3 linked regions of the Homo sapiens genome follow. The protein of the gene in region 2 purifies or fractionates together with the protein of the main gene of each other region. This does not show direct contact. Each region holds a gene or a part of one and is shown on either strand. Other genes may lie near its edges.

Region 1 (2,999 bases), on a different chromosome or scaffold from region 2:
TTATACTGTTAGAATGAGTCATAGGCCTGAACCCACTGTTTCCATGCCCCCTAACTCAGTGTGGACAGAAGCAGTTCCATCTGCAGGATTAGAGAGTTATCTCCCCTCTGCTCCTCCAGTGTCACCAGAAGGATCAGGAAGGCTTCCCTGTCCAGTGTCTCCTCTGCACATCTGCCTGGATTTGACTGGTTTGCCCTTTCCTTGGAAAGCAGATCTCTTGGGCACAAGACACATCCTAGAGCAGGGCATCGGCAAGCTTTTCCTTAAAGGGCCAGAGAGTCAATATTTTAGACTTTGCAAGCCTATACCTCCTCACCTCGGCTGAAAGCAGCCATGGACAATCTGTAAACAAATGGTTGTGGCTGTGTTCCAATAAAACTTTATTTATGGACACTGAAATTTGAATTTAATGTGTCACAAAATATTATTTTTTCCCAACCAATTAAAAATGTAAAAACCATTGATAGCTCATGGGCTGTAAAAAGCAGGTGGTAGGCTGCATTTGGCTCCTATTTTGCTGCCCTCTGTCTCGGAGTTTTTTGTTTTTGGACCCTTGTTTTCCTGGGTGCTTGGAGGAAGGGCACTGAAAGAATAGAAGGGTGCAGAAAGAGGAAGCAGGGGGCCTTGGGGAAACCATTGCTTATTTCAACATTTGGCCTTAGACAATCCTAAATATGGGTTTGGAGGGAGGCTCAGGGGTGTTGTCACTTCCCCTAACAACTCTGCCCCTCCCATCCCAAACCTGGAGGGTGTCTGAAACACGGGACTGAAAGCCCACTGCACAATGGACCTCTGTAGGCCCATCTTGCACCAACTGACATTGAAAGGCCTGTCTTTCAATGATGCATTTCTATTGAGCCCTGATCACTCCCAAATCCACATCTCTAACTTGAGCACACAGACTTACCCTGACCATCTGGCCCCCGAAAGACTTACTCGGCACACAGGCAGACGACCGAGAATCTGCAACAGCAGGCTTAGTTCCCGTGGGTGTTGAACCAGGCTTACTGGGATGGCCCCACTGAGGGCCTAGTGAGTGCCAGGCCCTGATCAAATGCTGTCTCCCCAGTCCTTCTAGCATCCTATGGGTTGGGTATTATGTAACCCACTTGCACACATCAAGAAATTACAGTTGGCAACAAGTTTCATGGTGCATGCAAAGCGCAGATTTGGAGACCCAGCATCAACAATCCAGAGGTTTTGATGGTGGGGTCAGCAGGGGTAGTGACCCTGCAGTAGGGCCAGGACTATTCAGAGGTCACACAGCAGCACCTAGTTGCATGTAAGCAGGTGAAAGTACTGATCTCACCATCTTGAGAGCTCCAGATAAGTCCCCCAGGACACTTGCCCTTTAGTGTCCCCGTTCCCCATGCTGCTTGCTCTGCAGCCTAGAACCCAGATTTAAACCAGGAAACAGAAAAGGGGAGGGGGTGAAGGTGCATTTTGGCTGTGGGTCTGAGCCATGTGTTGACTGGGCCTCTACCTACAATACAATCTCCATTTTTACCTCTACCTAACTCCTTTCTGCAGTTCTCAATTGGCTGAGAATCTGTATAGAGAAGGGATAATTAAGTGGCCTTTTTCTTTCTTTTTTCCCTTCAACTTTTATTGATTGATTGAGACAGAGTCTGTTGCCCAGGCTGGAGTACAGTGGCGTGATCTTGGCTCACTGCAACCTCCGCCTCCTGGGTTCAAGCAATTCTCCTGCCTTAGCCCCCAAGTAGCTGGGACTATAGGCATGTGCCACCACACCCAGATAATTTTGTTTTTGCCCAGCTAATTTTTGTATTTTTTGTAGAGACTGGGTTTCACCATGTTGGCCCGGCTGGTCTCAAACTCCTGACCTCAAGTGATCTACCCACCTCAGCCTTCCAAAGTGCTGGGATTACAGGTATGAGCCGCTGCACCCAGTGGGTTTATCACTCTTTTTTTTTTTCTCAGACTGAGTCTTGCTGTATTGCCCAGGCTTGTGTGCAGTGGCGTGATCTCAGCTCACTGCAACCTCCACCTCCCGGGTTCAAGCGATTCTCCTGCCTCGGCCTCCTGAGTAACTGGGATTACAGGCTCCTGCCACCATGGCTGGCTAATTTTTGTATTTTTAGTAGAGATGGGGTTTCACCATGTTGGCCAGGCTAGTCTTGAACTCCTGACCTCAAGTGATTCACCCGCCTCAGCCTTCCAATGCGCTGGGATTACAGGCATGAACCACTGTGCCCAGCTTATCACTTTTTTGTTGTTGTTGTTTTGTCTTGAGACAGAGTTTCGCTCTTGTTGCCCAGGCTGGAGTGCAGTGGCACCATCTCGGCTCACCGCGACCTCCGCTTCCCAGGTTTAAGAGATTCTCCTGCCTCAGCCTCCCAAGTAGCTGGGATTACAGGCATGCGCCACCACACCCGGCTAATTTTGTATTTTTAGTAGAGACGGGGTTTCTCCATGTTAGTCAGGCTGATCTCGAACTCCTGACCTCAAGTGATCTGCCCCCTCGGCTTCCCAAAGTGCTGGGATTACACCCATGAGCCACTGTACCTGGCCTCCCACCACTTTTTTTATGGTCTCCTTAAGGCAAGGACTGAAAGCCCAACAGGGAAGAAAAAAATTTCATCATCCATCAGCAAAATCAGTATCTGCAGCTCAAGTGACATTCCTGTTGAGTCCATAAAGAACCTATGGGGGTGACCAGAGATGCCACCAAGGAAGGCTAGGCTGCTGCACTAGCCCCACCTGACAGGACAGGTAGCCTCTATCCTGCACCATTTTTTTTTTTTGAGACAGAGTCTCGCTCTGTCGCCCAGGCTGGAGTGCAGTGGCGGGATCTCGGCTCACTGCAAGCTCCGTCTCCCGGGTTCATGCCATTCTCCTGCCTCAGCCTCCCGAGTAGCTGGGATTACAGGCACCCGCCACCACGCCCGGCTAAATTTTTTTTGAATTTTTAATAGAGACGGGGTTTCACCGTGTTAGCCATGATGGTCTCGATCTCCTGACCTTGTGATCCACCTGCC
Region 2 (3,655 bases):
AGGTTATTACGATCCACCAGGAGAGAGCCGACCAGCAGAAGAGCCACGGCAGTAATGGTGGAGATGGGAGAAAGGGTCAGAGTCTAGATAGATTTTGAAGATAATGCCTTCAAAATATGATAATGAACAGAAGAGTCCAGAATGCCTGAGGTTTAGAACCTAAAAACTGGTAGAAATAACTGGTAGAGTGGCCATTCACTGATTTTCAGAATACTATGATGGGACCATAGTAGACTCGGGGGTGGGAGGGGTGTGGGGAAGATCAAAGTAATAATCTTGGATCTGTCAAGTTTGATGTCCAAAAAACTGGCAAGCAAAGAGAATGCATAGGCAGTCAGCTATTCAAGCCTGTTGTCCTGCATAGGCAATCAGCTATTCAAGCCTGCTGTCCTGTGGGGAAGTACGGAGGAGAAATACGCATCTGGGAATCCTCGGCAGATCCACGGCATTCAGAATCACCGGGCTTCATGAGGTCCCCTGGGGAGCGGCTGCAAACAGAGAAAAAGGCAGTCCATCTACTGTGCACTGGACCTTGAAGTCCAGAAGATAAAGAGGCAAGAGGCAAATGAGGCTGAGAAGAAGTGGCGGTGAGGCAGAAGGGAAAAGAGAATGGTCACCAGCAAGTGAAGAAAGCATTTCAGAAAAGAGGAGGGAATCACGAACTGTCAAATGGAGGAGGAGGAGAATGGTGAACTGACCGGGAGTCTAGCAGTATGGGCATCACCAGGGTTCTTGACAAGAACGGTCCCAAAGGACTAGTGGAAGGGAAGGCCTCATAACCTCATTTCTTTTATTTCCTTGAAAATACGGAAGCACACGCTCCAACACCACACTGATCAACTCTCTGCAGCTGCACCCCTCACGTACTGAGCTTCCCTACCGCTCCCACCGCTCCGCTGCCAGTACTCCCATCTCAAGTCCCTGCACTTGTGCACTGCTCCCATTAAAAAAAGAAAGAAAAAAATTCTTCAAAGGGTTGTCTTTATCCACTGCCTCTACTTCCTGTCTTCCTGTTTCCAACGGAATACATGCGTTTCCACTGTAAGACACTAGGTTAGCTATGTGAAGAGAAGTACTAAGATGCTGAGAATTCCCCCTACATTTGTATTAAAAATGTAAAACAAGCAATATAAAAAGCAACTGCCAAATTTTCAAAATACTGCCTACTTCTAAACTTTCCTCCAATTGTTATTTATAAATCTATTGTTGGGAAATTCAGTGCTCTTGTACTTGGCACAAATTCATTATTTGATGGTAATTTATTATAAGAGACGGTAATTTAATGCTACATTTCTCCAACTAATGTGGTGACCTAAGGCATTATTTGTCATCACTCCATATGTGTGAGATATAAAGTTGATTAGGAGATGTCAAATTTCATACTATTATTGACAATGGTATGGGCTATAATATTGCCGTAATATAGAGTCTATGCGCTGGGTTCTGGAGTCAGAATGTCTGGTTTAGAATCTTAGCTAAGTGGGACTTCCGTTTTGTCTCCAGGTCTCAGCTTCCCCATCTATAAAATGGGGGTAATAGTTTACCGACTTCACAGGTTATTATGAGGAATAAGTTACTTTGTGTAAAGCATACAGCACAGTGCTTGGAACATACTAAATACCCCTTAAATGTTAGCATTATTGTAATCATTCTCAATTTACAGTTCCACCGTCCACCCAGTTGCCTGGGGCAAAACCATGCAATTCACCAATACTTCTTTCTCTTATCTCTGCACTGAGCTGTCTCCCAACCATGTCACCCAATGTGTAATTATTTGCTAATCTCCTAAATAACTCTTTCCAATTAATAGCACTGTATCTTGCCAACAAATACTCATAATTTCTTGCCTAATATCCATGGTCTCCCAGCTTCTAATCTTGCCCCTATGAATCCATCTACGCTACTGCCATTTAAAGCCCTTTCTGAACTTTTTCATTATCCCTAAGATGGTATCTAGAACAAGCATTCTTCGACCTTGGCAGTGTCTTCAAGTATGTCTCTCGCTGCTCCCCTACACGCTTTCAACCCTTGGTAAGTGTGCTGCTGGAATGCCGATACATACCACGCCTTTCACACCTCCCATCTTTGCTCACTCCATGGGTACCATGCCATTCCAGGCTACCACATCTCTGACGTGACAGAACATCTTCCTCACTTTTTTTCTACTGGCTAAGAATAACCCTCTTGGAAAACTTCCTCAAACCCTGAGGCTCCTAAGGTACAAGGCATATATCTTCTTTATTTATAAATCATGTTGTATAAAATTATATTTTTTTATGTGTTTGCCCCTACTACTCAGTAAGCACCTTGAAGCTAAAGAAGACTCTCAGGTGTCTAACACAGTGCCTGGCACATGCTGACTGTAGTAAACTAAAATCAGAGACAAATAAATACATAAGCTTCAGTGGTCTCAAAATACTAACAGTAATTGTCACTTATTATCACCTTATAATACTACCATCGCTACAGGTAGCTTTAGAAAACCGTCATCAGTGACACCTTCCCCAACTAACAATAAGACTGTCCTAGGATGACAGAAGTCTGAAAAACAGTGAGCTTTAACACCAAAATTTTATGTAACAAGAGATAGCCTCTCAGATATATATAAACTGAGGAGTGCTAAAAAACCTGCCTACCAAAAACAACAACAATCCTCACTGACCTTGATTTGCCGCTAGAAAGCTCGAGTCAAATACGCAGGACACCTCTAGTAAGGAAATTTCTAACCCTGGCCCTCGCTCCTTCCAATTTCCTCATCCTACATTTGCTCTACCAGCAATTCCTCATTTCCCCGTTGAAACACACAAACACACATCTGTTTTTATATATTGATAAACAGATATTACATATTGTACCTTTATATATAGATATTTAAATGGCCTCTAAGCCTTTGTGAAGCCTTTGCAAGGAATTTTTAAAAAATACACCTAACTGGTCTAATATAGCACTTGAAATTGTCATTAACACTAAAACATGTATTCATAAAATATTTACTGAGTTCCTAGCCAGTGTAAAACTGTGTGCTACATAGGATGGCTATAGAGGTGAAAGACAGTGCCAGCTCTCAAGATACTGTCTTCAGTGGGGATACAAACAAGTAAAAAGGCAACTACCAGCCAGGAAACGGAAGTACACACACAGTCCTCTGACAGCACACAGGAGGAACAGTGCTGAGAGGTGGAAAAGCAAGGAAGATGTCCCAGTAAAAATGCAGCTAAGCTAACAACTAAAGAATATGCAGGAATGAGCCAGGACGAGAGGGCTAAATATTTCAAGAAAATGTTCTTCAAAAGACACCTGTTGAAATAAACATGTGTTCCTTGAGAGGTGACATTAATAGCTACACTCTATGGGTAGGGTTGGGCCTATGCCAGGGATTTCACATCCCGAATGCAGAAGCAGAGTCACACACAGAGAACAGCAGCAGGGTACCACAGCGCTACAGAACTTCACTGTTAAAGCACCTACCAACAGGTTATCTCATTCACAAGGATAATTTCCCAAGGCCCCGACCTTGAAGAATGAGTCTCAAGTAATCTCTAGTAACAAGGAAGGTAGAGCAGCATGTGACATAGTCAAACAGAGGACTAGCAGGGGAAAAGTGGCAGTTCCGGCTAATACTAAAATAGCTGCAGGGTCCTATTAAGTCAGGAAC
Region 3 (3,655 bases), on a different chromosome or scaffold from region 2:
TCAGGAAAATCAATGAAAAACCCTGGGCATTAGAAAAGGAAGTTATCCATCCTTTGTTTTAAACTCGTGTTAACAAAGAAATGAGCAGCAACATTATCATGTGTAGGTACCACCTTCTGCCAAACACAATATCCAATTAAATGAATTGATTTAATGTACATGGAAGGCACAATTAACTATACAAAGAGCCCAGACCACAAAGAAGTTTCCTGATCTGTGTGCAAACACAGCCTGCCAGTAAGCACACAGGGATAAGATCTGGGAGTCTGCCAAAATATCAAATTAACATACAGAAGGAAGAGAGGGAGAGAAAAAACAAGATAAAGCTCCCAAATAAAACGAAGATGGAAGGACTGGAAAACTAAGGATAATAAAAAGCTGAAGAGAATAAAATATGATCATTATGAATAAAGATCCTAACAGCAACATTGCCAACTCTCACACCAGAGGACTTACAAAGAAGGGTATTTTATAAACTTTAAAATCAGCAACCACTCAACCACACGTGAGTAATCTGTGAGATGCCAGTGGTTCAACACACGTTACCTTTTTGGCATAGAGCACAATTTTCTGGAATTGGCCTGTTTCTGCAAAACACTGGATCACTTTGCTTGGCACATTTGCCCGAAGGTACACACTCAGAGCGAGCATGGGGTCAGTGGTTTTGACCAAGTCTCCGAGCTCCTCTGAGCACTCCAGCTGTGGTATGCCAAGGGACAAGGCAAAGTTAGGAGGCAGGTAGGGAGCCTGGACCAAGTTTTCAAGCTGTGCGGGGGGGCTACGAGCTCACAAGTGTTTCTACCTTATCTTCTTTCAGCCACTTCTCTAGGAGTTGCTTACGCCCCTGCTGAAGAACCAGATGGCAAAGTTCTAAGGATTCAAGTTTATTGAGCTGACCCTGGTCGAGCAGGATTCCGAAGTACTGCAGCAATGGAGAAGCCTGGCCAGACTGAGCGGGTATACTCTGGAATTTCTGGACCGTCTCTCTGGTACGCAGGATTCCCTAATAATAAATGGAAAAATAGGTCATTGTGTTGTAATCACAGGGGATCCCTTCACTCAACTTCCTTGTATGTAAAAACAAAAATCTGCCAGTGGAAATTCCACACTGCTCTGTCATAGACAAAAAGTCCTCTACCAAGGCAACTGCTTCTATCTTCAACAATAACCATAAGTATAGGGGAATCTAGGTCCTCCAGGTGGCTTCACACTTAGGGTCTTACTTCTCCCCCAGCATGCTGCAGTAAGAATTCGGCCTCTCAATCAGTCTTGTAGTAGTGAAGTTCTGCTATCATTATATTCTAATTCAAAATACTCAAATTCACAGATGAAGGCTAGAAATGGTTTGTTCACAACTACCCCTTGAAAGACAAGAAAAATTCTTTCAAGGACAAGCAACTTGAAAGTCTTTATCTACTCAGGAACAGATCCAGTCTCTGAACAATTTATCCAAATGAAATAAACCCAAGAAAAAGCCATATGCCGAAATGCTATATTCTAAAAGAGTGGAGAAAGTCCAGGGTAGGACTATCGCTAGATAAAACAGGGAACAACCACTTGATGTATTGTACAGTTGCATATTTGACAACCAGGTAGCAAGAGTGGAAAATGCTAAGTTACAGAAATGTGAAACTGTATCTAAGCTGTTGGGTGAGAGGTACGTATGCACACAAAGTGGGAGGCGTGAAGAAGTGCCGATGCAGCAAGAGTGTGTTTTTTGTTTACTTCCTTTACTGTTATGCCATTGGTGCAAAAATTTTAAACTAAAAACTCCTAACATAACACTAATAGACTGCAATATCACTAGTGAAATGCTTTTATGACTTATTTTCCTCTCAAGGTTGGTTCTTAACACTCAGAACACTTGAACAGTATTCAAGGTTTATCACCTTTGGTGCAGACGCTGCAACTTTGGCGGCTTCAGCATAGCTGCCCTGTGCAAAGAGGGTATTGAATTTTCTCACAAACAACTTCTCTGCCCCAGCCAGGTTACTACGAACGGCCAAACGCAGACCAAGGTCTGGATTCTGAAGCACGTTGGTTGCATAATTCACAATGTTATCTTCCTCAACACAAACTGACAGTACCTGTAAGGACACAACAAGTGAGAGCAGCCCGGCCTAGAAGAGTGCTCCACCATCCCTCTGCCATGTTCCCTTCCGATGCTGGAGTGGTAGCCACATTCTCAGGCGAGTGTTGAGCACACCTGTGATGGTGGCCCTCACAGTGAAAGGAGGCAAAGCAGCCGAAAGCCAAATGGTAACAAAACAGAACAGCATAGGAGTCTATGTAGTTATTAAAGTCACACAGATAAGTGTGATGCGTTCTGCGCTACAGCAAAATGACCTATGTGGATGGAACTGACAATTTTTCTTCTTAAACTTTTTATTTTTAAAGTACAGAGTTTCTTTCTTTTTTAAAAAATATTTTTGTAGAGACAGGGTCTTACTATGTCGCTCAGGCTGGATTCAAACTCCTAGCCTCAAGCAATCCTCCTGTCTCAGCCTTCCAAAGTGCTGGGATTATAGGAATCAGCCACTGTTCCCGACTTTTTTTTTTTTTTCCCCTGAGACAGGCTCTCACTGTTTCACCCAGGCTGGAGTGCAATGGTGTGATCACAGCTCACTGCAGCCTCAAACTCCTGGGCTCAAGCCATCCTCCTGCCTCAACCTCCCATGCAGTTGGGATTACAGGCATAAACTATTGTGCCCAGCCAAGAGTTTCTTCTTTTAACTATCTTTTTCAACTATGGTTGAGAAAAGTTACTTAAATACCATAGTATCTGCTTTTTCAACCCTCCCCAGTTAGGGTGTGCATGGTATAAAGATGATGTGCATCAGAACTGCTGTTCTATACGCAGGAAGGAGCTGCTCTCCTCCTGGAATCAATCCTGTGTTAGGAATGGTGCTGTCTGAAGAGAGGAAGTGTCAATATGAAGGAGGAGACATGGGTTTAAGTTTAATAACAGGAACTATTAATAGCTACACCCAGCTGCTTTCCTAGAGAAGGGGGAAAGTTTAAACGCCAGTCCCTAATGAATGGAAAAGGTAGAAAATGAAATGTCAGAGTTACACACCTGTCCCTTTTTGTTGACACCAATAATTCCAGAGGTTGGTTTGTGTGGAGCAGTGACAAATATTGTGTCAGCACTAATACGGTTCATGCAGATGCACACGCCAGACTCTAGGTCGTACAGATGAAGATAGCCATACTTTGTGATCAAGTAAATAACACCATGTTTAGCTCCAATCTATAAGAAGACAGAGAGCAAGAGGTTGGAAAGTAAGGAGGAGAAGCCATGCGGGTAAAAAGAGCTCACAAATGATAAAGAGGATTCTTGTTTGTTTGTTTGTTTTTTGAGATAGGGTCGTGCTCTGTCACCCAGGCTGGAGTGTAGTGGTGCCACCATAGCTCACTGCAACTTCCGACCTCTGGGCTCAGGTGATCCTCCCATCTCAGCCTCCAATGTAGCTGGGACTACAAGTGTGAGCTGCCACACCTAGCTATACAAGGATTCTTCAGTTTCTCAGGCCGAGAGATTACTGGTGGGAGCAATGCTTTCCTGAGACATGGATTCTAAGTTGTACTTGATTGAGAATTAGTTTTAAAGACAATATTTTGTCCAACCACTCTCAAATAAAGGTCCAATAAACTC

What was found.
Region 1: the proteins of STAM (region 2) and THADA fractionate together in Homo sapiens (co-fractionation; one large-scale study listed by BioGRID). This does not show direct contact.
Region 3: the proteins of STAM (region 2) and CLTCL1 purify together in Homo sapiens (affinity purification with mass spectrometry, with the first as the bait; one study listed by BioGRID). This does not show direct contact.

Annotation. Positions count from the first base shown.
Region 1 is NC_000002.12:43,233,060-43,236,058, forward strand, and holds part of THADA (tRNA (32-2'-O)-methyltransferase regulator THADA), read right to left. Parts: intron 1-2,999. UniProt on the Homo sapiens protein: Together with methyltransferase FTSJ1, methylates the 2'-O-ribose of nucleotides at position 32 of the anticodon loop of substrate tRNAs.
Region 2 is NC_000010.11:17,710,102-17,713,756, reverse strand, and holds part of STAM (signal transducing adapter molecule 1), read right to left. Parts: intron 489-3,655; coding exon of another isoform or gene 377-488; exon of another isoform or gene 1-376. UniProt on the Homo sapiens protein: Involved in intracellular signal transduction mediated by cytokines and growth factors. Upon IL-2 and GM-CSL stimulation, it plays a role in signaling leading to DNA synthesis and MYC induction. May also play a role in T-cell development.
Region 3 is NC_000022.11:19,232,620-19,236,274, forward strand, and holds part of CLTCL1 (clathrin heavy chain 2), read right to left. Parts: intron 3,251-3,655; coding exon 3,077-3,250; intron 2,088-3,076; coding exon 1,890-2,087; intron 1,004-1,889; coding exon 803-1,003; intron 700-802; coding exon 547-699; intron 1-546. UniProt on the Homo sapiens protein: Clathrin is the major protein of the polyhedral coat of coated pits and vesicles. Two different adapter protein complexes link the clathrin lattice either to the plasma membrane or to the trans-Golgi network.